3 separate regions of the Homo sapiens genome follow, and all the other regions are linked to region 3. The links come from fine-mapping of genetic effects on plasma protein levels. A gene starts in region 3. Each other region holds a variant in brackets. All regions are shown on one strand. Distances are between the middles of the regions.

Region 1 (10,711 bases), 48 kb after region 3:
CGTGCCTGTAGTCCCAGCTACTCACAAGGCTAAGGCAGGAGAATTGCTTAAACCCGGGAGGCAGAGGTTGCAGTGAGCCGAGATCGCACCACTGCACTCCAGCCTGGGCGACAGAGCGAGACTTTGTCTCAAAAAAAAAAAAAAAAAATTAGTTGAAATTCTGTCTCAGTTATGAAAGGTAGCTTTATTCTTTTGGTTTTCTATTTTGAGTTATGACTGAGAAATAACCTGTGGCAGAGGTTTTCTTAACAATGTATTGTGGCCAGTGCACCTGTTTCAAGATTACTCTAAACAGAAACAAGAGTGAAATAAATTTGTGGAGTTAATAATAAAAATGTTATTCTCTGTGGTATGTTTTCTTTTCTTTTGTTTTTTTAAGACAGGGTCTTGCTCTGTTGCCCAGGCTGGAGTGCAGTGGCGCCATCTTGGCTCACTGCAACCTCTGCCTCCCAGGTTCAAGCGATTCTCCTGCCTCAGGCCCCTGAGTAGCTGGGATTACAGGCACGTACCACCACGCCTAGCTAATTTTTATATTTTTAGTAGAGACAGGGTTTCACCATGTTGGTCATGTTGGTCTCGAACTCCTGACCTCATGATCTGCCCCCTGCCAGCCTCCCACAGTGCTGGGATTACAGGCGTGAGCCACCGCGCCCGGCCTGTATTTTTTCATTTCATAGAATTTCCAGATAAAAGTCAGAGTCAACTAGTTTTATAATACTGAAAAGTTTTGCAAATACAAGCATGTCACTTAATGATGGGGATGTGTTCTGAGAAATGTGTCATTAGGTGATTCCGTCATTGTGCAAATGTCATAGAGTATACTTACATAAACCTAGGTGGTATGTAGCCTATATGATATATGTGGCTTATATGATATACCCTATTGCTCCTAGGCTGCAAACCTGTATAGCATGTTACTATCCTGAAGTCAATGGGCAATTGTAACACAATGGCAAGTATTTGTGTATTGAAACATAAGGGTATAGTAAAAATATGGTACTATTAATACAACTGTATGGGACTACCATTGTATATGCGGTCCATCATTGGCCAAACTTTCTTTATGGTGGCACAAGACTACATAATAAATGGTAAAGTAACCAGACTTGGAGATGGGGAGGAGGGAGAAGAATGCCAAATGTATGTTTCCTCCCACAGACTAGCAGGCATCTAGTATCAGGCAACACACTTATACAATCATTTCCTACTCCTGTCTCACACTTGCCAGAATCTGGATTTAATTTTTTTTTTTTATTGTTAGACCAGTAATGCAGTTTTCATATTTTGTATAACAAAAAAGTTGTAGGACTTTTCCTTCTTACTGTGAAAATATGACTCATTAAATACATAACTTTTAGTATTGGCCATTTGTATTCTTATACTCTTAGTCACAAAGATAACTACGTTTTACAAAGTCGAAAGGTTAATAATAGCAGCTAGCATGAATTCAGAGCTTGCTATGTATTGAGCACTGGGTTTAAACACATATGCTCTATTTTATTAAGTCCTTATAGTAGGAAAGTGAAGAATACACTAGTCACTGAAGTTCCTTCAGTGCTCAAGACTCAAGTGCACTATAGCAAGACAAACACCAGGAAACATGTAACTCTGCTTCGAATACTTTAGCAAGTGAATGGCCCAGTTTGGGAAAGCAAGACAAACACTGGATCCATAATGGCTTTTTACACCTGATTGGAATGCAGAAAAAATGGAACCACTAACTACTAATATTATCTTTGCCAGCAGGTGAGCAGTACATACCTGACTTCAGAGGATTTTATTGAAACCAATAGATGATGGTTAATAAAAACAAATATCCTCAGCTTTCCTTCTTTTACTTGTCATCTGACAACCACTATTTAGCTAAAACTAAAATGGATTAGAGATACAAGATGATGAATAACAATTATTAACTTTTGTGAGCATATAATGTGAGTCAGCTACTACACTAAGAACTTTACATAGATTCCCTTAATTTTCTCAATAATCCTATGAGAACTGTCCTTGTATGAGCAACCCCATTTTATAGCTGAAGATACTTGAGGCTTCAAGAGGTTATATAAACATGTTCATGGTCAACAGTTATTAAGCAGTGAGTGACATTCTCACGAGATTAATGAGATCATCTGTGTGAGATACAAATACATCTATTGTGTATGTTTGTGTTTTTAATGGAGACCAATGGTATGACAGAATGAAGTCCTTTTATCAGTCAGTCAAGATCTGATGTGGCTATTCAAATATAGGCAAAACTGATGTTTTCCTTTTTTAGTTAAGTTAAATGTAATATTTAAATAACTGTGAATATTTAGAATATTCACAGAATTGTGCAACCATCACCACAATCTTTAGAATATTTTCATCATCTCAAAAAGATACTTTGTAGCCTTTAGCACCCTTCCCACTGTACCCCCCCCCATACCCCTGGCCATAGGCAACTACTAAATTACTTTCTGTCCCTGCAGGTTGTCCTATTCTGGATACTTTGTATATGTGGAATCATAAAATAGGTGATCTTTTATGACTGGCATCTTTCAAGCATGTTTTTGATATTTTCATCCATGTTGTAGGATATTAAATTAACTTTTTGCATAGGAATAACTGAGCTAGAAAAGCATTGGCTGAATATGTCTGCAGAATGTAGCATTTAGAAAAGAAAGACTTCCAGGAGACAAATGAGGTAGTAACTAAAATGTAAATAACTAAAAATTAGCTTTGAGTCTTTAATAAACTACCTTTCATGTTTTGCTTTCACTAGGAATGAACTTTTAATTTTTTGGAGCTATAAATACATGTAGTTTCTAAAGACATCTTTGTTTTTAAAGAAAAGACATCTGCAGGCTTTTTCTTAGTGTTCCTATTAAGTATGTATGAGTGTGTGCATTTGTGTGTGTGTGTGTGCATGTTTAGTGACTTTACATGTGTATACATACAAATGTACACAGTCATATATGACTAGTGGTACATGGAATCTCAATTTAATTGTAAAAGTGAAGGAGTTCTAAAACTAGTTTTAGTATAGTAAGTGGGATATAGTAAGAATGTCCTACAATTTAAAAGCTTATTTGGTTATCTTCAATGGATTTTGAATGTATTCAATACTAGATTTGCGAGTGACTATGCCTTTTTAGTAAACAAAAGAAAGGCTATAATGTAGAAAGTATATGGAATAAGCATAACATCTGTCCTAATCTAATTTTCAGGCACATCTCCAGACTTCAATTTGGCTGAAATAATTCATGCCACGGACCTGTGCACATGCCTGGAATTGAGAGACACAGTTAAAAGACTCCAAGTTGCTTTCTGCCTTTTGAAAACTCCTGAAAACCATCCCTTTGGACTCTGGAATTCTACACAGCTCAACCAAGACTTTGCTTGAATGTTTACATTTTCTGCTCGCTGTCCTACATATCACAATATAGTGTTCACGTTTTGTTAAAACTTTGGGGTGTCAGGAGTTGAGCTTGCTCAGCAAGCCAGCATGGCTAGGATGAGCTTTGTTATAGCAGCTTGCCAATTGGTGCTGGGCCTACTAATGACTTCATTAACCGAGTCTTCCATACAGAATAGTGAGTGTCCACAACTTTGCGTATGTGAAATTCGTCCCTGGTTTACCCCACAGTCAACTTACAGAGAAGCCACCACTGTTGATTGCAATGACCTCCGCTTAACAAGGATTCCCAGTAACCTCTCTAGTGACACACAAGTGCTTCTCTTACAGAGCAATAACATCGCAAAGACTGTGGATGAGCTGCAGCAGCTTTTCAACTTGACTGAACTAGATTTCTCCCAAAACAACTTTACTAACATTAAGGAGGTCGGGCTGGCAAACCTAACCCAGCTCACAACGCTGCATTTGGAGGAAAATCAGATTACCGAGATGACTGATTACTGTCTACAAGACCTCAGCAACCTTCAAGAACTCTACATCAACCACAACCAAATTAGCACTATTTCTGCTCATGCTTTTGCAGGCTTAAAAAATCTATTAAGGCTCCACCTGAACTCCAACAAATTGAAAGTTATTGATAGT[C/T]GCTGGTTTGATTCTACACCCAACCTGGAAATTCTCATGATCGGAGAAAACCCTGTGATTGGAATTCTGGATATGAACTTCAAACCCCTCGCAAATTTGAGAAGCTTAGTTTTGGCAGGAATGTATCTCACTGATATTCCTGGAAATGCTTTGGTGGGTCTGGATAGCCTTGAGAGCCTGTCTTTTTATGATAACAAACTGGTTAAAGTCCCTCAACTTGCCCTGCAAAAAGTTCCAAATTTGAAATTCTTAGACCTCAACAAAAACCCCATTCACAAAATCCAAGAAGGGGACTTCAAAAATATGCTTCGGTTAAAAGAACTGGGAATCAACAATATGGGCGAGCTCGTTTCTGTCGACCGCTATGCCCTGGATAACTTGCCTGAACTCACAAAGCTGGAAGCCACCAATAACCCTAAACTCTCTTACATCCACCGCTTGGCTTTCCGAAGTGTCCCTGCTCTGGAAAGCTTGATGCTGAACAACAATGCCTTGAATGCCATTTACCAAAAGACAGTCGAATCCCTCCCCAATCTGCGTGAGATCAGTATCCATAGCAATCCCCTCAGGTGTGACTGTGTGATCCACTGGATTAACTCCAACAAAACCAACATCCGCTTCATGGAGCCCCTGTCCATGTTCTGTGCCATGCCGCCCGAATATAAAGGGCACCAGGTGAAGGAAGTTTTAATCCAGGATTCGAGTGAACAGTGCCTCCCAATGATATCTCACGACAGCTTCCCAAATCGTTTAAACGTGGATATCGGCACGACGGTTTTCCTAGACTGTCGAGCCATGGCTGAGCCAGAACCTGAAATTTACTGGGTCACTCCCATTGGAAATAAGATAACTGTGGAAACCCTTTCAGATAAATACAAGCTAAGTAGCGAAGGTACCTTGGAAATATCTAACATACAAATTGAAGACTCAGGAAGATACACATGTGTTGCCCAGAATGTCCAAGGGGCAGACACTCGGGTGGCAACAATTAAGGTTAATGGGACCCTTCTGGATGGTACCCAGGTGCTAAAAATATACGTCAAGCAGACAGAATCCCATTCCATCTTAGTGTCCTGGAAAGTTAATTCCAATGTCATGACGTCAAACTTAAAATGGTCGTCTGCCACCATGAAGATTGATAACCCTCACATAACATATACTGCCAGGGTCCCAGTCGATGTCCATGAATACAACCTAACGCATCTGCAGCCTTCCACAGATTATGAAGTGTGTCTCACAGTGTCCAATATTCATCAGCAGACTCAAAAGTCATGCGTAAATGTCACAACCAAAAATGCCGCCTTCGCAGTGGACATCTCTGATCAAGAAACCAGTACAGCCCTTGCTGCAGTAATGGGGTCTATGTTTGCCGTCATTAGCCTTGCGTCCATTGCTGTGTACTTTGCCAAAAGATTTAAGAGAAAAAACTACCACCACTCATTAAAAAAGTATATGCAAAAAACCTCTTCAATCCCACTAAATGAGCTGTACCCACCACTCATTAACCTCTGGGAAGGTGACAGCGAGAAAGACAAAGATGGTTCTGCAGACACCAAGCCAACCCAGGTCGACACATCCAGAAGCTATTACATGTGGTAACTCAGAGGATATTTTGCTTCTGGTAGTAAGGAGCACAAAGACGTTTTTGCTTTATTCTGCAAAAGTGAACAAGTTGAAGACTTTTGTATTTTTGACTTTGCTAGTTTGTGGCAGAGTGGAGAGGACGGGTGGATATTTCAAATTTTTTTAGTATAGCGTATCGCAAGGGTTTGACACGGCTGCCAGCGACTCTAGGCTTCCAGTCTGTGTTTGGTTTTTATTCTTATCATTATTATGATTGTTATTATATTATTATTTTATTTTAGTTGTTGTGCTAAACTCAATAATGCTGTTCTAACTACAGTGCTCAATAAAATGATTAATGACAGGATGGGGTTCCCCTGTGCTTTTACCAGTAGCATGACCCCTTCTGAAGCCATCCGTAGAAAGTACTTTGTCCTCCAAAAAGCTAACATACGGTTTTGAAGCAGCATTGAAACTTTTGTAGCAATCTGGTCTATAGACTTTTAACTCAAGAAGCTAAGGCTAGACTTGTTACCTTCGTTGAATGATGTTAGTTGACTGTACTGTAATGTTGTATCAACTGAATTGAATGTTTGCCTTTAAACAATGAATTTTCTTTTTCTTTCCTTTTTTTTTTTTTTGTTGTAATAGTTAAAGAGGCTTAGAACAAGCTAACAGGCAATAGAAATATGTATATCAGATTTTTTAATGTAACAAACTACATGTTAATTGTTATCTTATTCTTTTTATCTTTAGTAGACACTTTTAAAAGAAAAGACAAGTTTGTTGTGTTTAACTCACCAACACGTGGTGTATAATGAAGACAGAACTATAATAAATTAGTTTTGTTCTGATTTTTTAGAACACTTGCAATAATGTATCATTTATAGTTCTTGCTAGTTGCAGTGGTAATATTTTTCACATCCATAAAAACAACTACCAAAATAAATCAGCTGTAGCATGTTGCTTTTTAAAGCTAGGCCCTAAAAGGTTTTAATTCTTTTTCTAAGGGAAGAAATGTCTATTTTAATTAAGATATTTTAATGAACAGGATTTCTGTATTTTAAATAGTACTGACTAGCACCTAATGGGCAGTGGGAGGGTGGTTCATATGAAGAAAAAAAGGTGTATTGTTGTATCCCATGCATAAATAAAGGTAAATATATATATACACCAATATATTCATATATACTCACACACATCCCAACCTGTCACACACAATGCGTGTGTATATATATATGAATATATTGGATATGTCATTTCTGTAAGAGTTTTGTTAAAACCTGATTTTCTTTTGTAGTATCCACATTCTTCATCAAAGTACAAAAACGTCTGTGGAGTGTCACAAACTGTATGACATGTTATTTCTTTTTAACAGTTGTCTATATGCTTAGACCCGTGTTAGTCTCTATATCTGTGTGGCAATATCTGCTGAGACAAGTAAATGATTAATAGAAAACAAAACAACTTCCGTACAGTTCAAACTTTTCATCCAAATATATATAGACAGTTTTGGAGAATTGTTTCAAGATTATAGAGGAAACATGTAACATTTAGAGCAGATGGAACTAGGTTTAGGTAGAAGGCCAGTTCCACAAAGGGCAGAGGGAGGGATGGGATTTAATAGGTAAAGAAGAACCCATTTGAAAATAAAGGTTGTTTCAAAAGGCAGCTGCCGCCAGGCACACAGCATTCCATCAGACAGGTGCCAGACAAGCAAAAGCAAGGAAGTTGGCAGAAAGAAAGTCCAGGTGATGTAGGTTGAGGTATTTCTTTCTTTGGCAGTATCTTGCTTTTGTGAATCACTTTATTAAAAAAAATCACTTTCTTCCCATTCTTAAGGGGTTTTGGCAAACAGAATTTCAGATCTTGAAACAAATGAGCTGCAACAGAAAAATAAGTACCTGAGCTCGAGGTATCCCTTCCCAAAGCCTTCACTTATTGGTGAGAAAAACCTGGGCCCAGGGAGGGCTTGCAGCTTACCCAGTTCGGACTCCTGCCAGTTCAGCGCTCTGCACTCCATTGATTGTTCTAGGCCCGGCAGCCTGTTAGGTTCCTGTGCAGGGCCCCTCTTTTGCAGTTCTGAATAACCTCTAGTGCCCCTGCTTCAAAAATGCAGTACATCCTCAAGTTCCCATTTACTCAGGATACATTTTAGCACAGGGCAGATCAGACGGTGTCTCTACTGTTAGTATTGCAAAGTATGTATGGGAAACACAGAGAATTGGAGCTGCGTTGAATGCAAACTTGAGGTGTTTCCCTTGAGGAATTCTTGTCTTCAAACGTCTGCAGAGTAATGGACCATGTTACAACTTTCCTGTTCATCTGTGAACCATGAAAATGGATGGCACTGATGCATTAGACCCTCAGCAGCCTGCAATTGCAAATCTGCGAGGTTTCATTCGGCCCATAAAGCAAACATTTGAACTTACACAGAATGAGCACTTAAATACGGGTGCAATAAATGAAGGGAAAAACCTCAGCCGTTTCTCCATTCTGAAGATATAGCAAGCACCGGGAAATCTAAGATTTTTCATCAACAATATCTTCTGCCAGCCCAGTTTGGGGGGAAAAACCCCTTTTACATTTTTCTTCAGTAAAGTACTGGAACTTACTTTTCCCTGTCTGTGCTAATGAGCTGATTTTCAGCTGATAGAAAACAAAATGATAGAGTACTTTTTTCCTTGGCCAAGTATTTTCTCATTTGTATTTAATTTCATAAATTAGACAGCCAGTGAAATTAGACCTCAAACTAGGTCCTGATGGATAATGAATGTTATGTCACCTTTAACAGTGAAGTGGTTATTATAGGTCACTTTCTAATTTCATATTTTCCCTTTTGCTTTCTGCTGCCTTCAGGGTATATAGTGTATCTCTAACCTGATTTTTCAAGGTTATTTTTGGAGCAGTTTCTTAAAACAGGCATTCCCTAACTTGCTCATTTAATTAATGAAAAATTGAACTGATGCCATGGATATAAAAACAAATGTAATGTTTGATTGTCAGTGTTTCTGATTTGGCAAAAAGGAATCATCTCTATTTTTTTGCAAACAATATCAAAGTGCATATTTTCTCTCATGTGGTTTCTATTTATTCAATCATTCATTTGTTTGCTAAGGACGCCATAGTCAACCCTTTACTTGGTGTTTGTTTTCTATTTCTGTATTCATTTTCCAAGGCATTTTCTTTTCTTTATTACTGTTTTCACCATTGGTGGGGTAGGGGGAAGCATTTTATATCTCCAACAGTTTGCTGGGAAAAACCACACTTTTTCCCTTTCTATTCACTGGAAAGGGAAATGTAACTACTTCTGAAGCATTCTAAGTACAACTGGAAATGCTTTCTTCACCTCAGTTCTTTCACTCTCGCCTTGCTTGCAAATAGACTTTTTTATTGTTATTCAAAAGGGATTAGCTTGGAAGAAAAAAAAATGTTTCTTTAAAGATTGGTGATTCAGAATCACCATCCGGAGGTCTAGAATAATTTTGGCCTGGAATCTCTGCAGGACTTGATCTAATCTGGTGTGGACAGTTCCCCTGCCCCAACCCCCACTTCCCCCATAAGCACTGATACCAGCTTCTTTAGTAAAAAGGAGATGCTGAGGGAACTAAGGATTTTTATGTCTGCTGGTTCAACATTGCCCAGAACAGGTAAACAGAACTAAATGGGTTTCTCATATTAAAGAATTCCTAGGAGACTTGACGGCGGGAGATGACAATGAAGGCTTTCTTTATGTCTTCAAATTTATTTATCTTTTCTTCTTTAAGAAACCTTATATGCTGGGAATCTTGAGGTACATTCCAAAACTATACTTATATCAGGCTAAATTTTAATTCTAATCTTGAACTCCCCCATACTATTCTCTGTTACACACTCCTAAAATTTTGAAATGTATAGATTTTTGTGGAGAAGACACCAAACTCTTTCCTTAGCAGGAAACCATGGAAAGCTTTTATAAAATTAATGACAAACTCAAGTGTTTAGCTCCAAAGCTTAAATGCGGAAATGTGAAGTTCATATAAACTGAGCAATTTGCAAGGGTACCTGACATGCCTGAAAACACAGGGAACAGCCAGACAATGGCTCTTGCATAATTACCAAATTGTGGAGTTTGTGGATGTGTTTATATTTAGGAAATCATCCAGTCCCCCTCCCCAGTTTATATGGATGCCGTAAGACATTAAAGTGGCATTATGCATTTGCCCTCCTGACAGCCCATTATGTCAGTTATATATTAAATATGAAGCAAATCCAGTATCATGTACCTCATGCAAGCAGTTCTGGCCACAAAGTGCGTCAGATCATGCCTCTCCTTTCCACCTGGGCCTCCCTGTCTCCCTCCCATAAGATTAGATGGACAAAGTAAATTTCAGCCTGGGCCCTGACAGAGTGATCATGAATTTCTAGTAAGGGGTGGGGGTGTCCTGAATTAATAAGGTAGCATTTTAATGCATCAGTCTGCGTATTACCACGTCTCATTCATATAAACAAGACAGTGGTCATGAGGAGAAGGGAAACAAACCATGTAATTGGGGCAGAAAGGACTACATTTTTACAGCTGTGACTTAAGTGGGGAGAAGCATTTGTTGTGCATCTAACCCTCTGCTAGGAGCTTCACAGAGATTACTTACATTGAATCCTTTCAGTTGCCCATGTCGTCCCTATGTTAGAGAATAGTGTTTACTCAGCCTCACAGAGCCAAGCAACTTGCCTGAAATCTCACAGCTGGTAAGAAACAACTGAGACTTAACTCAGGACTGACTGACTAAAACCAGTAGTTTTCCAACTGTATAATGGTCCACAAGCTAAATCTAGGTCAGGAATAGAGAGCACATAACTCCCAAATATTCAGCATTTGAGTCAGGAACAATGGAGAAGAGGGAGGGTCTAATTTAAGACTCAAACCTGAGATCAATATACGGAAATCACAAGCCAAAGAGGAAAAAGTAAAGGACAGGTCTTCCATGGTTGTGACAACAAATCCCTACATTGAACTGGAAGAACCTGAAGCTGCAAAAGAAAAGCAATCAGTCAAAATGAGAGTGGGTGGGAGTAAAAGTAGGTCCCAAATATGGCCGTATTTTGAGCACTTGTGCTTCAGATGCCGTACTGAGC
Region 2 (10,711 bases), 31 kb before region 3:
AGCTGCTGTTAAAAGAAAAACTTCAGCCAAATCAAATTTAAAGGAGTTCAGTTGAGCAAAGAACGATTTATCAATTGGGCAGCCTCCGGAGCCAGAGTAGGTTCAGACTCCAGTGCATCCATGTGGTGGAAGATGATTTATGGACAGAAAAGGGAAAGTGATATACAGAAAATGGAAGCAAGGCACAGAAATAGCCATATTGGTTACAGCTCTGCATTTCCCTTATTTAAACACAGTTTGAACTCTTGGTCACCTTTGATTGGCCAAAATTCAGTGATTGGTACAACAGTAGACTACAGTTTCTTTACAATTCCATTTAGGTTATAGCTCACAATATAAAGACAAACCTTTAGGCTGAACTTAAGCTATGCAAGGAGGCAGCTTAAGGGTAAACTTGATTAAAAATGTGCAGACTCTAGAATGGTCATGTAATCAAGCAATAAGACAGTTCTCCAGACCTAGAATCACATGTGATAATCTGCCATTTCTACTCCTAACTTTCACATCTAAAATACTCTAAATACAATTAGACATCAAGCAAAGTAGAAAGAGCCAGGATAGGACACAAAAAAAGAGCAGCCAGATAAGTCAGGAGAGTTCCTTCCTTCCCTCTCTTTCCTCCTTCCTTCCTTCCTTCCTTCTTTCCTTCTTTTCCTTCCTTCCTTCATTCATTCATTTACGAAGGTCCTGGCGACACAAGGTCTCCTCATACCTCTTTGTTGAATGCGTCCGTCCACTCACCAAATGGGTTTGAGCATCCACTCTGTTTCAGGCACTGTGGACAGTGCACCAAATAGATAGGGTGCCTTTCATCCCCTATCAGCCCCTAGGTGGATAATCATACCAATAATGTCTTAAAACTGTGATAAAGAAAAAAGTACAAGATGCCATGAAAGTGTATACCAGAGGCTGCTTACCTTAACTTAGGGACTCAAAGCAGTTTTCCCTGGGGATGTAACATTAATTAATTAGGACCCACAGGGCACTGACCATCCCTTTCCAAATCCTGGTCTGCATCACTGTCTGTTCACTTGCCAACTGAACTAATAACGAAAGTTAACATAAACTGAGGACTTAGTATGTGCTCAGCTTTGTAGTAAGTGCTTTACACAAATCAATTATTTAAACTTCATACTAAATCTGTGTTAAACCTGGTGTTATTATTTTTCCAATTTCGTAGATGAGGAAGTAAGTGGAGGCATAGCAGGATTAAGTACTTGCCCAAAGCTGGAAAACTAAAGTCAAAAATCAAATCCAGATCTGCCTTCCTTGACATGTCATGCCCTTAACACTTGACTTTCTTGTAAAAGAGCCATTCCTTTTCTAAAGACATCAATCTAACTGTTAAATAGCTGCATAATAAACACATACACACACACACACACACACACACACACACGAACAGCTTTTCCCAAAAGAATAAATGTCAATATATCTTAACCCACTTTTCTCGTAACGAGTTGATCCAGCAATAACAAGAATATTCCTCGGGTAATGCCTTTTTATTAAGAACAAATATGAGTTACGAGACACGATACAGTATCCAATCTCAGAAAGCAATTTTCGAAGATTGAGTATCTCCACTTTATGCTGCAAAATAACGAACACATGGACACCCCAGAATGCTTATCCAACATAGCTTGCCACGTTAGCATTTAAAATAGGCAAACATGTGCTGGGAGATATAAAGAAATGTAACTATACAGATGATTTCTTCCCTGTTTAGCTCAACATTGATCATTTGCTGTTAAGTAAACACTTTAACTTAAAAGTAGTCAATGAGAATTTGGATCTTTCTGAAGGAGTCACACATCAAAAGCTTACAATGGGGAGGTGAGAAAAGGCAGTGGAATGTCTAGTCCTGCTGAAAGGCTGAGAAAAATCCTTTCAGAATAAGTCATCTACTCCCAGCTACTCAGGAGGCTGAAGCAGGAGAATGGCATGGACCCAAGAGGCAGAGCTTGCAGTGAGCTGAGATCACGCCACTGCACTCCAGCCTGGGCGACAGAGCGAGACTCCGTCTCAAAAAAACAAAAAACAAAAAAAAAAAAGAATAAGTCATCTACATAAGCAGGGAAGATCACTTGATATGCACTGGCTTTATGAAATATGGGAATTGCCCCCCTTTCTGCAAGTAAAATAAGAGGAAATATTTCCCCCCTTATCCAAGTGCAAGAAAGATCATTTCCATTAACATTAGGAATATAAAAAGATTTTCTTCCTAGCTTGCTCTCCAGCAACAAGATCTCATGGACTTTCTTAACCATTTGACACTTAACACCGTTGTAAATAGTGCTTCCTGTGAAGGTTTGTAATGCAGCCTGACTCCCAATCCTTAAACATCCTGCTGTGCAGAGGGAATAGCCAAAGCCAGAAAACCCTAGAACTATTTTTCCTCTCTCCTTCAAAGCCACCAAAACCTGGTAGAAGCATGAGTTTCTTCTCCTCTACCTTTTGGACTTGGGAAATCTGGACCTATTGACATGAGATAACATGTACACATTCTGCCTAAATGTAATGAATGTTTCAAAGGTTTCACAGAAAGCTCAAGCAATGCAACAGAATGGATCTTTTATGGGGTTTTTTTTTTTTTTTTTTTGCATTTTGAGAGGGTAGGTGAGGAAAACATGTTTTTCAAGCTCTGTGATGTTGCTTGATAAATCACAGCAATATTTCTGAAGCGTATTTAATTACAAATTGGCTTGAGTTTTCAAAAGGACAGGGCTTACAGATAGATATGTCCTGAATATGAAACATTACTATACTAATGATGCATTAAATTATTTTATAAAACAAAAACCCGAGAGTACATAAAAATGTATCCACAGCTCATCATATACGCTATGTGAAAGAGAGAGGCTCTTGGCTAAATTTCAAATGCCTATGAGCACAAGAAAATGGAACCGTCTAACTAAGCCTTATGTTTTCATTCCCTCATCCCACAAATATTTAGCAAGGGTTTACTATGGACGACACTATTCTAGGTACTGAGGATACAACAGTGAGTGAAATAAAGTCTTCTTCTCCAGGGACAGAGGTTCTATTTGGGGAAACATGATAAAAAACAAAACAATGTGCAATAAAATGTTAAGGAGGGATTTGGTCTCTGCAGATGAGTTTTGCAACAAAAGAGGGCAGGATGGAAGGTGGCTAGGAAGGGTGATCGAAGGAAGGTCTTATGAAATGGTTTGCCAATGTCATACCTCCTATCAAGAGGTGGTGAAATCCAGAAAATGTCTTGAGTTAGATGGCCAGGAGATATGGACCCTCACTATACCCTTCTCACCAAGGGCTCGTTTTTGTTAGGGACACTTATATTCAAGATCTTAGGCAAGCCCAGAAAACTAAGAAGACTTGAGATATTAAATAATTGGAAAGAGATCTCTCAACACTGTTTGCTCGAAGGCCAGGTCTTTTGCTTTATTGGGAAGCAGGAAAGAACAAGGACATTGGAAGCAGAAAGACCTAAGTTCAAATTCTAGTTCAACGTCTTGTCTGTGTGACCTCTGGTAAGCTGCTTTATCACCTTTCTCACTCCAACTCAGTATCTTCATCCATCAACTAGAAATCTATAACTGCCTCAGGAATTTCCGTGAAGATTAAGTCTGATCATGCATGCAAAATTAACTCAACGCTTGGCACATGGTGAACACTCAATAAGTGGGATATGGCATTATTGTAGGAGATAACAAATAACACAATGCTAATACCTTTAAAACAAAGCCAACAAGACTTTTTACTTTCTCAAGATGCCCTTTCTCTTTTCCAGGTGAAACGATCTTATTATTGTAAATTGCTCTCTTTAGGCTAAATGGAACCTGTCATGTTATAGATTGGTCCACTAAATATTTTCATTTTAAAAATAATAGAAGTAATTTGCAGCTATTCAGATAAGCTGAAGGAAAAAAAATCTACTGAAAACTAATGCAAGTCATTCAGTGACTGGGTACAAATGATTTATAATTTCAGGGGCCAGGTTTTCCCGGGTTTGGACTCACATGAAGACCGGTCATGGAGAGAGAGGAGACTTGGGTACTGAGTGGGTGTGTTTATGTGCATTTGATTGATTGTATTCTAAATATAAATATTAAAATAAACTTGAACTTTGATTACTTCACGGATTATTATTACACAGAACTCTCTGCTAAAGCCGGCAGAGAGACTTAAGTGCTGACTTGAAATATATTTCTAGGTATATTTATATACTACTCAGAAACAAAAAGGAAATAAATATTTTTAAAGCTTTGCAAGAAAACAACATGCAGCAAAGAGATTAGCCATTTGGTGACCAAAGGCTCAGCCAGGGGAAAGCGTATGTCAGGAATGTAGACAGTATGCGACGGACAGACATGGTGCTATTTGGAATAGGAGTTCCCAAGAAGGATCTCTTACATTTGATCCATGAAGCAACAGGTGTTCTTGGAAATAGGATCCTAGGTTTGGCTCAGACCACAACCTCTGTCAAAATGAGAACAAAGGATTGGAAAAATCACCACCACACTGACAATTCCCATTAACCTCTGGCATGGAACGACACACTCTTATCTGCCCACAACTGCTGCCCAGTCTGCAGCCTGAAGCTTGTCTCCATTTACAGGCTGTGGAATTACCCTAGCCTCTGAAAATTCACCAAGAGCAAATACTGCTGCAACCTGCACTTCTTTGGTGACTAAGACCCCCCTAAGGCTCAGAGGGAAGGCTTGCAGATATAT[G/A]TTTATCTTGATGAGCACATATCACATTGCCTGGGCTTTTCAATCCAGGCCAGTAATTGTCCCTCTTTGTTTGGAAAATGCACAGGGATCGAATATCCATCAGTCTAAGGCAGTATATAGGGGAAAGAGGAGGAAGGAGCAGGGCAGAAGTTGTTGCCACACACCCATGGCCATGCTACTTTCTCAGCTAAAAATGTGGGGGTGTGTAGTATAGCAGTGACATCCTGGAAGAGGCTTCTAAAGAAGGAAAGGCTAATACAGGACACTGCCCAACCCCTAACCCAGGACACACATCCCAAATTGGTGCAGACTTTTTCTTGGCTGTCCATAAATAGCCAATCTCAATGCAGCCATCCAGGCAGTCATTTCCAACTCATCAGACCTGGTATATAAGAAGAAATCTGCTTCATGTATTTCTGCATAAGGACATAGTATAATCTTTCCCCTGTAGGAGATGAAAACCTAAAACAACCTCAAGCTTAGGGATTTTAACACCATTCATTCCTGGCTAGATTTTGACCCACATGGCACCATTCTAGAAACCACATAGTCCATAAAGGAAAATGTTATTGCAAAGTAGCAAATGTGAAGGCTTGAAATGTCAAGTGGATTTAAAGAAAAACTGTACTTCTAAATGGTAACAGGTGGCCTTTACTTTTCACACTCATTTTAAGAGAGAAGATCACAGAGCAGAACACGCTCTTCCTGTCAAGGTGAAGATGGATAATCAGGCAGGAGGTGAAAATTAAGTCCAACATAAGGATGTTACAAGTCAAAACATTTGAAAAGGTTATAAAAATTTGTTTTCCATGATACTCAGTGGTTTTGAATCCTTTTGTGGAAGGATAGTATGTGGAATTTGTTGTGTCTTTTCAACTATGATCTGTCCTTCAAGTAGAAAAAAATGGGTTTTGCAGAGAAGGCCAAGTTGTATTTCAAGAGGGAAAAAAAAAAGACAGTAGAGAATGATTGACAAATAAATACTTTGGTGACAAATACTTGCATGTGTCTTCTCTACAGTGTCATCCAACTCTATAAACAAAGTTGAGTCTATCCACATTTAATCAATTCACAGGTGACTTCCTACCTGGAAGAGAACTAAGCCTGGCAGCCAGCAAGAGGCTCACTGTGAAACCAAGGTCTTTTAGTTTTGTACACAAACCATTGTGTCGTAGCTCCTTATTGGCTGTGTTTTCAATTCTTCAAATCTAGCCGGTTTGCATAAGCAAACAATATTTCCACTCCACCATTTGATGAACTAATGTCTTGTGCTACCAAAATAGAGAACTTTAAGATGGAAAACCTCTATGGAGGCCTCTAAGCCATCTTCCTGCCAAAGTGGCATTGTTGCATGGCATGTGTTTTCTAGTACTTTACTTAATCCCATTTTAAATATACCAAGCAAAGAGCCTTTCACTGCATAAGCACTCTTCACCATCCAAGAGCTTTCCTTCCTTATACTAAACGTACACTGAACTAAGTTCAAACCATTATTTCTTTTTACTGTTCCCCTCCAGCACCCTATTTTGTCCCCAGTAACAATTGTTATGGAGAGAGAGGAAAAAAAAGAGTGGACAGAGAATTGATTGTCAGAAGCCTTCAAAAAGAAAACAAAGAGTTGAAGAACTAGCTTTTAATTCTGCTACAGAATGAAGAATGCACGAAGCACTTTATGAGTTAGTTGATTCCCTGCAGTAGCAGATGAATTTTCTACTCAGTACCCCTAGTTTTTTAAATGCCTTTTATGCTTTCTTCATTCCCACATGTTATGTCTCACCCTACTACATCCTTTGGGTGTTGATTTCCACAGCTGAGTTAATGCAAGATGAAAGAGTTGCAGAAATTCTGAAAGAGGAAGATCTATTACACCCATTTAATGGGAATAATGTGTTTTTTTTTTTCTGCCAGAAACTCCTAGAGGAATACATTCATCTTTAGCTAATCCTTTTAATCATTTTAAAACAGATTTCCTATTATTTTATTGTATAATGAAATCCTTTACACAGTTGATCTACTAAAATGAATTCACAAGTTAGGCAAAACGATGTTTAGATTTTGACATTCCAATGATAATAAACAAATTAATCTTAAATGATAAAATCACTGATTAGAGTCATATGATACAATGATTTCTAAGGTCCAGAGAGGTCACTCAAAATTCTAAGATCTTTTTTAAAAATTGCATAACAATTTTCAATTCAAAAAGTAAGGAGATGTGATGGGACTGACTGTCAGAGAGGCCAGTCATTCCTCCTATACATAAAGGAGGATATATAATGGTCCCATGTATCATAATTTATGCCTGGAGAAACCCCCAGAATTTTTCACATTTCTCCTTTTCATTTCATACTATTTCATAAGTATGTTTCATCAGTTTTCATAAAGTCCTGTTTTCTTTTAACGACATGTGAATGCATTTGTGGGAGCATACAAAAACTCTAAGAATAATAATAAATGAGATTTAGTAGGCATTTACTTTAATCCAACAACTAGTGTAAGCTCTGTAGGTAATAACACATTTCACCCTAACAAAATAGTGATGGGTTTTATATTAAGGCCATTTTAAAAATGAAGAAACTGAGGTAAAAAAGTTAAGTTACTTCTCTAACTTTATTCAGTTAAAACCAGTGTGTCCAGAACCTATATGCCCAACCATCATATTTCATTGCATCCCTCAAAAGAGCACCCTAAGCTGATGCCATCTACTACTCCACAGTTTTTTCTCTCAACCTTGATTGAACATTAAGAAACAAAAACTTAGTAGCAATTATCTGAGTTGTTTGCCTTCAAAAGTTGCTAAAAAGAAATACTCAGAAATTTTCTGAGGCCAGAGGACCACTTCAAAACAGCTATACTTGTTGAATGTTGTTTCACTCCAACTAAAATTATATATTGTCTCAAAATGGTGTGCTCGGAAATAATTGGCACCATCTTGCCCATTTCTGAGATCAGGTCAAGGCAGTATTCTAAAGAGTGGTCGGCAGCCATCTTATACTAACATTCATCCTGGAGAGGATTAAAACATCAACAAGATGTAATTGCTTTATTGACGCACCCCTCATTCCACGGAACCCTCACCACCACACTGAGGTGTAGAGAAGCACTTCCCTAGATGAAATGGAAGACACAGAGTTTGAACCAAGGTCTGTATGACTCCAAAAATTTCTCTTTTGACTCTGCTATACTCACAGACAGCATGAAGAGAACTTCTAAGCTTCTGGAGCAAGGGAAGAGCTTAGATACAGTTTATCTTCATTTTGCAAGAATTAAAAACAATCTCCGATATCAACCCTTTTCCATCTCTATTCTCTCTTTTGGTTATACTTCTTCCAGATAATCCATTCCCAAAAATATGACACCCATAAATCCCTCTCTTCTCTGAATTCCTACAGAATATACATGCCACCACAATTTTCTCAGTCATTACAGGAAACTTGTATGTTTACTGAATAGTTCCATGCATGTTCCCTCCCTATAAACATTTCAAAGGGTTTCTCTTATATTCTGAATAGATTGCTTATGATTATGAGATTTTAGAACAAGAAGGAACTCGTGGACAGCATCTGGTAGAAACCAATTATTTTTACCAAGGAATAAAACTAGTGTTAAGAGAGGTTAAACAGCCCATCTCAGGTCACACAGCTAGTTAAGAAGCAAATTAACACCAGTATTTAGAGGTTTTTACTCCTGATCCAGAGCTCTTAACCCCATATCCAATTTTTCAGCTGAAGAGAAGCCTCACAGGAGATTATACAGAAATATCTGGCTGCTTCCATGTGTTCATATTCACATGCTCAAAAAAATTATACGCAGGACTAGGGGGTCTGAAAATAAAAAGACCATTAGTAATATTTAAGAATTTCAGTATATAGGAGATTTGACAAGGACTGGAGTCAGAAATGTGGGATAACAAACTTTAGCCAAGAATAGACGGCAGAAACCCCAGGACAGTATACATGATATTAAACCCATGCAAACCACAAGAACCAATGATCAAAAAATGATATATGGATATTTAGAAACAAATTTCTTCTCCACTGGATGCCAGTGTGAATTTACTGAGAATAAGTTGCCCTAAGCTAACCTCATTTCTTTCTTTATAATTTTATTACTGGTAATAATTAAAGCTACCATTTATAGGAGAATCTATTAGTAATGCCATGTGTGTATGTAATTGCTTTATTAGCGTACCCCTCATTCCACAGAACCCTCACCACCACACTGAGGTGTAGAGAAGCCCTTCCCTAGATGAAGTGGAAGACACAGAGTTTGAACTCTGCTCTGACTCCAAAAATTTCTCTTTTGGCTCTGCTATATTCACCGAGAGCCTGAAGAGAACTTCTAAGCTTTTAGAGCAAAGGAAGGGCTTAGACACAGTTTATCTTAATTTTATAAAACATATGACAATCTTCTATAATCACGTATTGTTATGGATATTAGCATTTATTTAAAAAATCATTCCTAATGAATGTTACTTAATAGATTAATATTGAATTGGAGAGAAGTCTCTCGGATAGTGACACAAAGTTCTGTTTAGGGATCACTGCTCTTAAACATTTGATCAATACATCAGATTAAAATGCAGAACACATGTCTGCAAAACAAACAAACAAACAAACAAAAAAATCTTTAGAACAGACAACTCTAAGAAAGACAGCAGTATAATGGCCAAGAAAATAAAGTTTCAAAAACATCTCCACAGACAGCTATACTGGGCCAAAACTAATCAGAAGAAATTTAACAATTATGAAAGTAAGCTCCTACCTTTAAGCTTCAAAAAAAATCAGCTAAACAAATGCAAGATTAGAGAAATTCAACTTGAGAGCCATTTCTCTCTTTTTTTTTTTTTTAAATAGTAACTTTTATTTCATCATTGTCCAAGCTCGCCTTCCAGACAGAGAGTATGTGGGATGCCAAACCAGCAGATGAGGCTCGATGGGGATGTGGATACAGCTAGCTGATGAGCTGCTGATCTACCCTGAAAGGAAAATTTGGGTTCAAGTCATGCAGAGCCCTACTGGGGTATCACATGAAAGGGGCTGGGTAGACCAGAGAGAAATAGATCAAGGCAGTGGCACATCATAGGAACAACAGCCCTTGAGGCAGTGCTGGTAAATTTGGAGCCATGAGAAGGAGGCAGAAGTCCTGAGTTACTAGACTGGCCATGAGGTTTTTCCAGGCCACGAGCAGCCATAAGCAATAGCAAACAGATGAGTGTGGCCCTGTTCCAATAAAACCTCATTTATGGACACTGAAATTTGAATGTCATGTAATTTTCATGTGTCGCAAAATATTACTCTTCTTTCAATTTTTTCCCAATCATTTAAAAATGTAAAAAGCATTCTTAGCCTGCAAATGGTACAGATACAGGCAGAAAGCCTCTGTTCGCCAATTCCAGTGGTAGACAATAGTTGAATGAATGAATGAATGAATGTCCTTTATTCAATGTTTTAGAGAACAGAGATAACACCAAAAGCAATGGAAGATGAATTTCACAAGAAGAGAAAATAATTATATGATCATTCAGCTATTTTAGAATAATTCTGGGGAACATGTTAAAGTATAAAAGAAAAAAAAAACACTAAAAATAGTCATAACTGTGCAGTAGTAACCTGAGCCAAAAACTGATTCAAGGAAATGTGGAATTGCTTCCAACAAAAAGAGAGGAAGCTCATCATTTCATAGCTTAAGACATTCCTTGAAGCTGAGGCCAGGAGAGACACATTAGCATTGAATGTATGCAAAAAACAGGACATAGCAGCATTTCCATGACAGGACTGGGTTTCCAATTAGCAGTATTTCAGACTGAAACACAAAACTTTTTTCCCCCCAGAAGAAAGGCTTTTTAGAAATACATACAAATTCGCCACTGCATTCCAGCCTCGGCGACAGAGCGAGACTCCGTCTCAAAATAAATAAATAAATAAATTATTTTCTAGGACACTTTGGATTACTATAAGGTTAATTTTTAGTATTTACTCCAACTTATTTGACTATTT
Region 3 (10,711 bases):
ACTCTGTTACTTGAGTATGAAATAAACTTGCCTTATTTAAGCCACTGATGGTCTTTGGTTTACTTGTTTTCAGTGACCATTATATTAACTAATACATTAATATTAGTGAGTGCTTGCTATATGGTAGGCACATACACACTTCTTTTTTTCCTGGTGATAGAATATACCAACATAAAATTTACCATCTTAACCATTTTAAGTGTACAGTTCAGTGTTACTAAGCACTTTCCTAACGTTATGCAACCATCACTACCAGCCGTCTCCATAACTCTTTTCATCTTATAAAACTGAAACTCTACACCTATTAAAAACTCCACATTCCCTGCTCTCTGCATGCCCTGGTAACCACTGTTCTACTTTCTGTATGATTTTGACAACTTTAAGTATCTCATATAAGTGCAATAATACAGTATTTGTCTTTTTGTAACTGACTTACTCCATTTAATACAACGTCCTCATTTCATATTCATGTTGTAGGGTATGTCAGAATTTATTTCCTTTTTAAAGTTGAATAATAGTCCATTGTATGTTGATACGGTGTGGCTGTGTTCCCACCCAAATCTCATCTTGAATTGTAGGTCCCATAATTCCCATACGTTCTGGGAGGGACCTGGTGGGAGATAATTGAATCATGGGGGCAGTTCCCCCATACTGTTCTCGTGGTAGTGAGTAAGTCTCACGAGATCTGATGGTTTTATAAGGGGAAGCCCCTTTCACTTGGCTCTCAATTCTCTCTTGTCTGCTGCCACGTAAGATGTGCCTTTCACTTTCCGCCATGATTATGAGGTCTCCCCAGCCACGTGGAACTGTGAGTCCATTAAACCTCTTTTCCTTTATAAATTACCCAGTCTCAGGTATGTCTTTATCGGCAGCATGAAAACAGACTAATACATATGTATATACCACATTTCGTTTATATAGTCATCCCTCAATAGATATTTGGGTTGCTTCCATGTTTTAGTTATTGTGAGTAATGCTGCTATGTATGTGGGTGGACAAATACTTCTTTGAGACCTTGCTTTCAGTTCTTTTGGGCACACAGTCAGAAGTAAAATTGCTGGGTCATATGGTAATTTTAGTTTTAATTTTCTGAGGGACTCCCATACTGTTTTCTACTGTGGCTGTATCATTTTATAGTCCCACCCACAGTGCACAAGTATTCTGTATTATTCTGTTCTCACACTACTGTAAAGAAATACCCGAGAATGAGAAATGTATAAAGAAAAGAGGTTGAATTGGCTCACGGTTCTGCAGGTTGTACAGGAAGCATGGCTGGGGAGGCCTCAAGAAACTTTCAATCATGGCAGAAGGTGAAGGGGAAGCAGGCACGTCTTACATGGCCAGAGAAGGAGGAAGAAAGAGACGCGGGAGGTGCTACACACTTTCATATAACCAGACCTCATGAGAACCCTATCACAAGAACAGCTCTAGGGAGATGGTGCTAAACCATTCATGAAGGATCCACTACCATGATCCAATCACCTCCCACCAGGCCCCACCTCCCACCAGGCCCCACCTCCAACATTAGGGATTACAATTCGACATGAGATTTGGGTGGGTACACCAATCCAAACCATATCAGGTTCCAATTTCTCCACATTCTCGCCAACACTGGTGTTTTTTGTTTTTTGTTTTTGTTTTTGTATAATAGCCATCCCAATGGGTATGAGGTAGTATTTCATTGTAGTTTTGATTTGCACTTCCCTGATTAGTGATGTTGAGCATCTTTTTTATTATTATTCTTTCAACTTTTATTTTAGACTCCGGGGGTATATGTACAGTTTTGTTACATAGGTATGCTGCATACGCACCTCTTTAAGTCTCACAGAACTCCACAATACAGGTACTATTACAGGCACAGAGAGCTTAAGTAAATTGTTCAAATTCACACAGTGTGTTGGGCTGGAATGTAAATCTAGGGACCCCAAATCATGAGCTCTGGCTCTGAATCGTTGCACTAGACTGTCTCTCTCAATACAAAAAAAAAAAAACCCTACTAAGTGTAATGTAATGACACAGAGTTAGTTCTTAGTTTATGTTAACTATTGTTATACAGACAAAAGAGAAATCAGAATGGAGAGCAAACAATTAAAAACAAAGAAAATTCTAAAATTCTATCAACCGAAATCTTTACATAAGCAAACAAATATTTTTATTTTTTAATAACGTTTGGCTGGCTAAAGGTAAACAGTAAGGAAACAGAAAAAGTTGAATATGTTAACCTGATAATCCAAAGTGTAGTTTATATCTATAGATCAATAACCAAAATAGCATTTTAAACAAGTTTGTTTATTATATGTGATAGCAAATAATTGAGAGAGTCCTTATTTCTCACCAACAAAAAGTTGGTAGAATTATGCAGCCATTGAGCATTATAGCTTCAAAGACTTTTTAATGATATGAAGAAAATACTCATGAAATAATGTGACCCGATTACATAAAGACATTCATTTATTGATTCATTTATTTTAAAAAAGTTTGAGTACCTATTACATGGTATAGGCCCTAGTCTATGAGCTGGTCACATCATCCCTCTCCAAAGAGTATATGGTCTAGCTTTCAGTGCAGGCTTTGTAAATAGACTGGCAGAGTTCCTCTTCTAGGGCTTAGTTTCTTTATCTACAAAATAAAGAAGTTGGATTTGATGACTGATACGGTTTGGCTGTGTCCCCACCCAAATCTCATCTTGAATTGTAGCTCCTATAATCCCCACATGTCGTGGGAGGGACCCAGTGGGAGGTAATTGCATCACGAGGGTGAGTTTTTCCTGTGCTGTTCTCATGATAGTGAATAAGTCTCAAGATCTGATGGTTTTCTAAGGGGCAGTTCTCCTGCACATGGTCTCTTGCCTGCTGCCATGTAAGATGTGCCTGTGTTCCTCCTTTGCCTTCTGCCATGATTGTGAGGCCTCCCTAGCCATGGGAACTATGAGTCCATTAAATCTCTTTTTCTTTATAAATTACCCAGTCTTGGGTATTTCTTCATAGCAGTATGAAAATGGACCAATACAATGACTGTCAACATCTCTGCAACAACTAAGTTCTACAAGTGGAAACAGGACCCTTTATTCAGTCAGGAATAAAACATTATTTGATATATCTGCAAAGCTGCAACTCAACTAAAATTGTAACAGCACCATAAACCTATTAATGTTAGTTCTATTTAGAACCGCCCACCATCTTGGTTTATCCAAGACTAAGGTGTGACCTGAGATGTTGAGATTTTTAGGACTAAAACCTGGAGATTCCCAGGCAAACTAAGATGGTTGGTCACTTTAGTTCTATGTCAAATTTTTAAGCTTAAATGCAAAAACTAGTTTTAATTACAGAAACGTCAATTAATCCCTTTTTTGTGTTGGGATGTTTCATATGCAGTAAACAAACAAACAAACAAACAAAACCCGAGAAGAACAGGAACTACGTATATGTAGTAAACCCACTCATTGTCAAAAATTCTTAGAGAAACAATACATTTGGTATGAAAGTTAACAATGATCACAATAGTCACAAAATTTTAAGCTACAGTCATCACCCTCTAAGAGCTTGGTGGTGGTTGTTTTAAAATCATAATTTCAGTTCAGAAATTGGAAAGAACTCTGACTACCGGTACTCTATTAATATTTCAATTAGAGAGAGACATATTTTCAACTTTGAAAAATTGCAGTTTTAAGAGGCATATGATAATTTTCTTTTCAAAATACAGATGTTCTTCTAAAGATTATTCAAATACGACTGTCTTCTGAAGTTTCATCTTTCTTTTTTTTCCTCATTTACCACATAGATCAGTACAATTAGGCTAACACCAATGATAATGTTCCTTCAAACCAAAGCTAAAGAACCTCAAGGGGCTGGTAGGGGAATCCAGAGGGGTTTGTAGTGTCTCAACACAGCCAATCGAGGGGCAAGAACTCTTTACATCAACAATAAGACCTTGCTCTCCTGGGAACTCTTGGGCTCTTGTCTCCAATTCCGTTCTCCTTCAAAAATTCCAAGGTCTTCTACCACACCTTAATAAATAACTATTAAGTGCTTTTTTACTAACTAATAAATTCAGGATCCCAGGACTGGGTGAGCTCATTAGGAGTAATTCAGATGGATTTGAGCTCTTTAAGCAAGAAGCAAGTAAGAGATTTGGTTATGCTGGTTCATTGATTCCTCTTCGTCCAATGATGCAAAAATGCGTGTTTCCTCTTCATCCATCCCAATGACAAGGAGCTTTTAAGTGTCAGTTAACAAGACAGTCCCGAAACCCCTTTGCAGAGTTAAAAAAGGGTAATTTCTAAAATTTGGACCAATTACCAATTCAGGCAATTCAGCAAATTTCTAATAATTACACCACATTTCAGACTCTTTCATAATTGTCATGCTCATTTTTCCTCTTCTGTCCACAGCAAGCCCCATCCTCTCACCCAAATTCCTTCCCCCATCCCTGACACACATTTCTTCCTAATGATAATGCTCTTCTCTCTGTCTGGAACCAAATGCATGCAGTGGTCAAGTAGAAATGGGAAAAGCTGCCTTTCTCACTCTTGCCTTGGGGAAGAGGGAAATTAGTTTAAATAAATGATATGCTAATTTGAAAAGAAATGAATCGAACAGTGGAGAGACAGAGTCCATTTCCTCCACTGGAGCAGCTAGTGCCTTTGAGATATTCTGTCACATGCGGAATCATTATCCCACCTGTCTGAATTGATGTCTTGTTTTAGTCTTCAATACCTGCCTAATAATGCCTAGAGCTTACATCTGTCGTTGAATGCTTACTATATACTAAGCACTGTCCTAAGCATTTTACATGTTTACTCCCACTTAACCATCACAATCCTTTGGGATAAGTACTGATATTAACCCTACTTTAGAGCCAAGGAAATTAAGCCTTAAAGAGATAAAGTGACTTGCCATTAGGGACACAGCTCATAAATTGCAGGGCTGGGACCTAAGCAGTGTTGGCCTGGTTTCAAAATTCACACCTTGGTCCCTGACTCACACCATTCTCATGAAGTCTCTTCCAAAACCTGGAGGCTGTTCTAGATCTGGCCTCCCAAGAGCAACTCTCACCATCATTAATTGCTCCGACTGCTCCTCCAAGACCTACCTCTGTAAAGCTCCTCCTTGAAGGGCACAACCTCATCTCTCTTCCACTCCCAGGAAGGCAGGCTGGAAACCTAATAGAGACTCCCTAAGAAACCTGCATTCTATCTTTCCCTGACCATTCAATTTCCGTACTTCCACCAGAGCCCAACTTCTATCAGACAAACTCCATGCTATCTGCATGCTAACTCCATGGATAATCTGCATGAAAAGGGGGGAAAGAGACAAAATCATGTTACAAAACTTGGGCAAGGGTCTAGACTCAACTTGCTTTGAAAGATCTTAAATCTTCCCATTCATTTGTAGACAGCAGTGGGCCTTTTTCTTCCTCTGCTCTGCACGACCTTCTAGCCCAAGTGCTAGTATCACCTTTTCCTAAAGACTTTTAAGACAAACTGTGACCATTTATGTCTACATGACACAGTTTCAGGATAACAAAGTGTGAAGACACACAAAGACGTCAAACATTTATCAGAGACCTAAGCGAAACGCCAATAAATGTTACAGGGATCAAGAATATGGTTACTGACATTGAATGTATCCTGTGGCTTTGAAGAATCCAAAGGATGATTCTCGAATAATGTATCCTTCCAAATTCTCCAGAAGTTCTAAGTTTAGACATCATAATGAAATGTCACCACGTTCCTCTGCCAGAAGTTGTTCAGTACTGAGGGGCTAATGATGCTTTCGCTTAAAGCCGATTCCCCCAATAAAGGGTGCCAAGGCTTTTCTGAAGCCCTGCTTCCGGCTGGCGACTTTGAAGCTGAGACGCAGGTTCACGCGCAGTTTCCGAAGACCTATTCCGTCCCCACCCTCCTCCCCTTCCTCGGAGACACCTCCACTTAACACTGCCTTCTCAGTCCCTCGCCGCCTGTTTAAACACAACTTCCACCCCTCACAAATCAGAAAGCTGTAATTTCAAAGTTTCAGAAACGTTTTCGGAAAGCCTCCTCCAATGGGAAGCGACTTCGCCGCTGAGTTAAGCGTCCGAATCCTCCTTCCCGCGGCAGGGACACCGGCCCGGGCCAGGTCTGCGGAGGACGCCCCCGGGCGCGCACACACAGCCCGAGGACGCGCCCTGTATTTTAAGACGCAGGGTCGGATTTCACCCCGAAACTTGGCTCCCACAGCCCCAGGCCGAACTGTGTCTGGTTCTCAGCCCCCGAGCCCGAGTTCTACGCCGCAAAGAGATGGGGCCCCATTGTGCCTAGCTGGCCTCCTAGCACGGACGTGTATTTTCTTTTGGTCTGTCTTTTGCTAAAAACCGGCAGTGCGCTTCGCCTCCCTGCCCAGCCGCAGCCTGCCGTCCCCTAGACAAAAAGCGGCGACCGCGGCCCGGCCACCCGAGCCCCGCCGCGCTGCGCCTTTGTTGGGCGGTCCACAGATGGTGCCCAGCACGGGGCCGCGCCGAGGGCGGGGGCGGGAGGCCGCGAAGAGGGTCGGGCGGGAGGGGAGGAGACGGCGGAGCAGCCAATCCGCGCGCGGCCCATCAGCTGACCGCCTTTGCTTACACCAGGTGCACGCCGGCTGCGGGGAGCACAAAGCGGGGCGCACCGCGGGCGCCGGCAACGAGCCGGTGAACGAGGCGAGGCCCGTGCGCCCGCGGCTGCAAGCGCCCGCCTGGCGGGGAGAGGGGCCGACGGCGTCAGCCCGGGCGGCGGCATCCCTAGGCGCCTGGGGCGCCTTCCTCCGGACCTGGCCGCTCGCTGCCCCGCCCTCTGCACCCCACTTCTCCGACCCTCCTTCCCAGTCCTGCCTCCCCCTGCCCTGGCCTCTGAGAGCCGACTGAGCCCAGCCCCGTGCAGCAGCGGTTGCCTGTGTCGCCGCCTAGTCTCCGGTCTTGGTGCTCTCCCGGGGGTGCCCCAAGGAGCCAGTGCGCGCTGCGGGCTGGGAAGGAGGCGCCGCTCAGCTAGTCCTCCTCCTCCTCCTCGTCTTTCTCCTCCTCCTGCTGCTGCTGCCGCCGCCGCCGCCGTGGGTGCCGGGTCCGCGCGCACCCCAACACCCCCACCAGCTGGGCCTCGGGGTAAGTCCCTGGCCGGCCGCGCCGCGGCAGGAGGTGTGGGAGGCAGCGAGGGGAAGTCGAGGCAAACTTGGTGGCGTGGGAGACCCTACGGGGTCTGGGGAACCTCAGGGTAAGATCGCGGGCCTGAGGGGGACGAGGGGGCGCGGCTCACGGAGCTGGGGAAAATGACGAAGTCGGGAAACGAGAATATAGTGCCCCGTTTCCCCCCGTCCCCCTTGCCAAAAAAAAAAAAAAAAAGGTGTGGGAGAGCGATAGTTGGGAAGGCAGGCCAGATAGAAACAGGCAAAAAAAGGCAGTGACCGGAGCCGAGCCTGCTGGATTTCAGGGGCCGACCAGGGGAGGGAGGTGCCCGGGGACGGGGAGGGAGGAGGGCTGCCGGGATGTGAACCGGGGAAGGCAGCTGGGGCTGGAGAGCAGCGCGGAAAGGGGGCCCAGGGAGCTGGAAAGAGGGCCAAGAGGAGGGCAAGGAAGGTGGCGGGCGACGGGGAGAGGAAAGAAAAAGGGTGTCTTGGCGGTGGCCTTGGTAAGAGAAAGGGGCAAGGGGTATAATTGACAAGGCACTGAAAGTATTGAAGTCAGAGCCTTGGGAAGGATCTACCGAACTCTCGGCGGTCCACGCGGGGACAGACCTCAGCCCGTGAGCCTTGAGCTCCACGCGGGGACAGACCTCAGCCCGTGAGCCTTGAGCTCCACGCGGGGACAGACCTCAGCCCGTGAGCCTTGAGCTCCACGCGGGGACAGACCTCAGCCCGTGAGCCTTGAGCTCCACGCGGGGACAGACCTCAGCCCGTGAGCCTTGAGCTCCACGCGGGGACAGACCTCAGCCCGTGAGCCTTGAGCCCAGAAGGAGTGGCAGCCTCAGGACGTTTGCCAGGTGGCCTGGAATGTGAGGGAAGCCTCAGCCCCGCCAGGAACAGAGCTGGCGCTGAGTTCCCGGCTCGGCCCGGGTCAGAAGCGAGGAAAGTTTGCCGGCGAGTGTCCTTTGTGCTGCGTGGAGAGGGGTGTGGGCGGCCGCCGACTCGGCGCTTCCCCGCCGCCCGCCCAGGGAGTCCCTGCCTGGCAAGCTGGGGCTCGGGGAAAAGTCCAGCAGCGAGAGGGCCGCGTGTCCCGGGACGGTTCCAGGGGAGCCCGCGCGGAAACGCGGACCAGGCGCTTCGGCCCGGATGCCGGATCCAGGAGAAGGGGACCTCGCTTGCCGTGTCCACCGCCGCGGCCCCAGCGCCAAGAACAGAGCCTGGCCGTGAGTGAACGACTGGCCGGGGTACAAATGGTTCTGAAGCACTTGAAGCTCACAGGCAAAGGCTAAGAGTCTAAATCCCATCCCGCCGTAAGTATTTTCATTCCCAAACCTAAATCGTAAAGGAAAAGTGGAATTCTAATTGGGTGAGGGAACAGGTGCTGCCGACTCTGGCTTTTGCGTGGAGGATTTTCTAAAAGACAACATGTTTTGTTTTGTCTTGCCATGACAATCTAAATCATGTTAGTGGAATAGGCTCATTATTTCATTTTTAAAAGCTAGGGCTGGAGGAGTGGAAAGTTCAGGAAGGCACTTTGATCAGTATAAATCTAGAGTAAAAGTGTTATTGGCTCCAGGGCCATATGTGTCCCGAAGTCTCTGATTTGCATGCAAATGTGAGCGGATCCTGGCAGATGTCTGGCCTCATCCATTCACATGAAGGAATTTGAAAAGACAAGGAGTCTTCAGTTAACAATAGACCTTAAGAAAAGAGAATAAAGACGCAGTGTGAGTTTTTCTGTTTGGGAATTCCATGGTTTGCTGACACCTTTATTCAGGAGCCAAATTCTTTAAGTGCTATTGTATTGAAAGCTCAAAGTGCTGCTTGCTCTTTACCTGGCTGTATATATTCGTGCAATATTCAAGCTGGATATTCTAAGCTAGTTAGGAAAAGGTTTGTGTGAAGCAGACAGTAACTTTAACCCACTTCTGGCGGCTTGAAGTGATTTCTGAATTGACCCCTCAACTTTTCGAGTTTTCTTTTAATAATTTGACTCTTGCTCAAATTTGGTCCTCATCTTCAGAGCTATTCATTATAGTAGAAGATCGTTGTCGTTGACCGACATGAAGATTTCCTGAGAATGTCCACTGTCTAGCTGAGAATGTCCACTGTCTAGCCAAAGTCATTTCGGTTCTTAAGGCACCAAACTGTAGAACTGCAGGTGATGCAACTGTCCCAACCCTAGTTACCCGAGTGGTTTTCAGGTCACATAACAGTGAACGGGGAGGTAGTCGTGCAGTAGACTCTGGAGCAAGGGCCTTTCTGCCGTGTCTAACATTAGCTGCGTGACCACACTGCACTGTTCACCTCTTGGCGTTGTGCGACAGCTGAACAAAAGGCAGGCAGTGTGGGCCGCACGTGAGGCAGGCGATTATATTAATACCTACGACTAACCAGCCCCAGTGGCCTCTTCTTTTGTCAACCTCAAACACTGTTGAAGGGAAAAAGAACCTATTCACGGAACAGCATTTGCCCCAGTATTCTATATATTCACTGAAAGGGACATTAAAATACAACACCCCCCCAACCCCCGCCAGAAAAAAAAGACAACATTGTTTTGGAGGGCTCAGTGTTTCGGGGGAGGGGTGGACAACAGATGTTAGTCTGCTATTTTACATGTTCCTTTAAGTTATTTTTGCAGGTTCAGTGCCTTTTATACATAAGGCAATATTTTCACAGGATGGGGAAAAATGAATTGAATCAAATTTAAGTAAGAAAATGTTATAGCCAAGTTTGCATTTTGTGTCTTAGAGCTATATAGAAGTCAGAAAGTAACAAATCATTCTAATAAACTCTTAATTTGACTCTACACGCCTGATGTCTTCCTGATAGAGTTGAAGGGTAACTTAAAATAAACTTGACATTTCTAGACTATAAACCATTTTGTTGTAAAGTTATCTAGATATTTTTGAAACCTGGTAAGTTAAAAATGACCCTCACATTTGTGAAACCTTATCTTTGGCAATTAACCTGCCTGTGTAATCGTTATTCTGCAAGTCTAATGAAAGGACAGATTAGAACTCATTCCTTGGTAAATAAAACTGATAAAGTGTTTAATTATTAGAAAAGGATCATTCTGCTAAATAAAAGATCTCAAGACCAGATCCAACTGCAGACTGTGTTTCTAAAACATAACCTCAGCTAGCTCTGGTTAATGTCTGAAATTCTGGGAAAGCAAGGAAAAACTCAACCATTGATCTCTCTCTGGTTAGTCTGTGCTAAGGCCACCTTCTTGATCTAAACTGCTAGAGCCATTACCACATATTCTAAAGCAGTGACACTCATGGGAATATACTAGGTACTAAAGAAAATCGGTCTCTACGGAGTTATATTGCTACTTCCCAAGCCAGTGGAATATAAATAATAATGATAAATAATCAGAATGGTGGGCTTTTTATACCACCATAAGTAGGCCATAAGTCATAAATAAAATATGGTAAATTATAGGATGCAGATGCCAGTTTTACGAGACTTGCACAATGCTTACTTAAAATTTATTTTTAAGTTACAAAATAATAGTTCCCCGAATGATTCATTTCAGCACTAATGTCAGGTTATTCAAATATTGTATTTAATTTTAAAAA

Alleles and levels. Alleles are on the strand shown, and positions count from the first base shown. The strength of an association depends on the size of the effect and on how common the allele is.
For the plasma level of the protein whose gene starts at base 6,622 in region 3, allele C in region 1 goes with a higher level than allele T (weak association).
For the plasma level of the protein whose gene starts at base 6,622 in region 3, A is the high allele of the variant in region 2 and G is the other (strong association).

What was found. PIP is the posterior inclusion probability: the model's chance that the variant is causal. The UK Biobank Pharma Proteomics Project read protein levels with antibody pairs (Olink). The fine-mapping took linkage between variants from a reference panel, not from the people measured, so its PIPs are less certain.
Region 1: its variant is fine-mapped to the plasma level of the LRRN1 protein (UK Biobank, PIP above 0.99). The variant lies in the coding sequence of LRRN1. If it changes the protein, the assay may bind it differently, which can mimic a change of level.
Region 2: its variant is fine-mapped to the plasma level of the LRRN1 protein (UK Biobank, PIP above 0.99).

The regions. Positions count from the first base shown.
Region 1 is chr3:3,841,161-3,851,871 of GRCh38, forward strand. It overlaps LRRN1 (leucine rich repeat neuronal 1), which reads left to right. Exons shown (of 2, transcript NM_020873.7): 2 at 3,204-8,674. The coding sequence starts at 3,482. The coding sequence ends at 5,632. Among named protein-coding and RNA genes, the nearest start is that of LRRN1, 47 kb to the left of the region's middle. The variant C/T (reference allele first, on the strand shown) is at 4,034.
Region 2 is chr3:3,761,382-3,772,092 of GRCh38, forward strand. All of the region lies in intron 5 of LOC100130207 (a long non-coding RNA gene), which reads right to left. Among named protein-coding and RNA genes, the nearest start is that of LRRN1, 33 kb to the right of the region's middle. The variant G/A (reference allele first, on the strand shown) is at 4,713.
Region 3 is chr3:3,792,810-3,803,520 of GRCh38, forward strand. LRRN1 (leucine rich repeat neuronal 1) reads left to right here and starts at 6,622. Exons shown (of 2, transcript NM_020873.7): 1 at 6,622-7,110. LOC100130207 (a long non-coding RNA gene) reads right to left here and starts at 8,066. Exons shown (of 6, transcript NR_149025.1): 1 at 7,892-8,066. RefSeq lists silencers at 6,523-6,592, 6,603-6,692, 6,833-6,942, 9,476-9,770.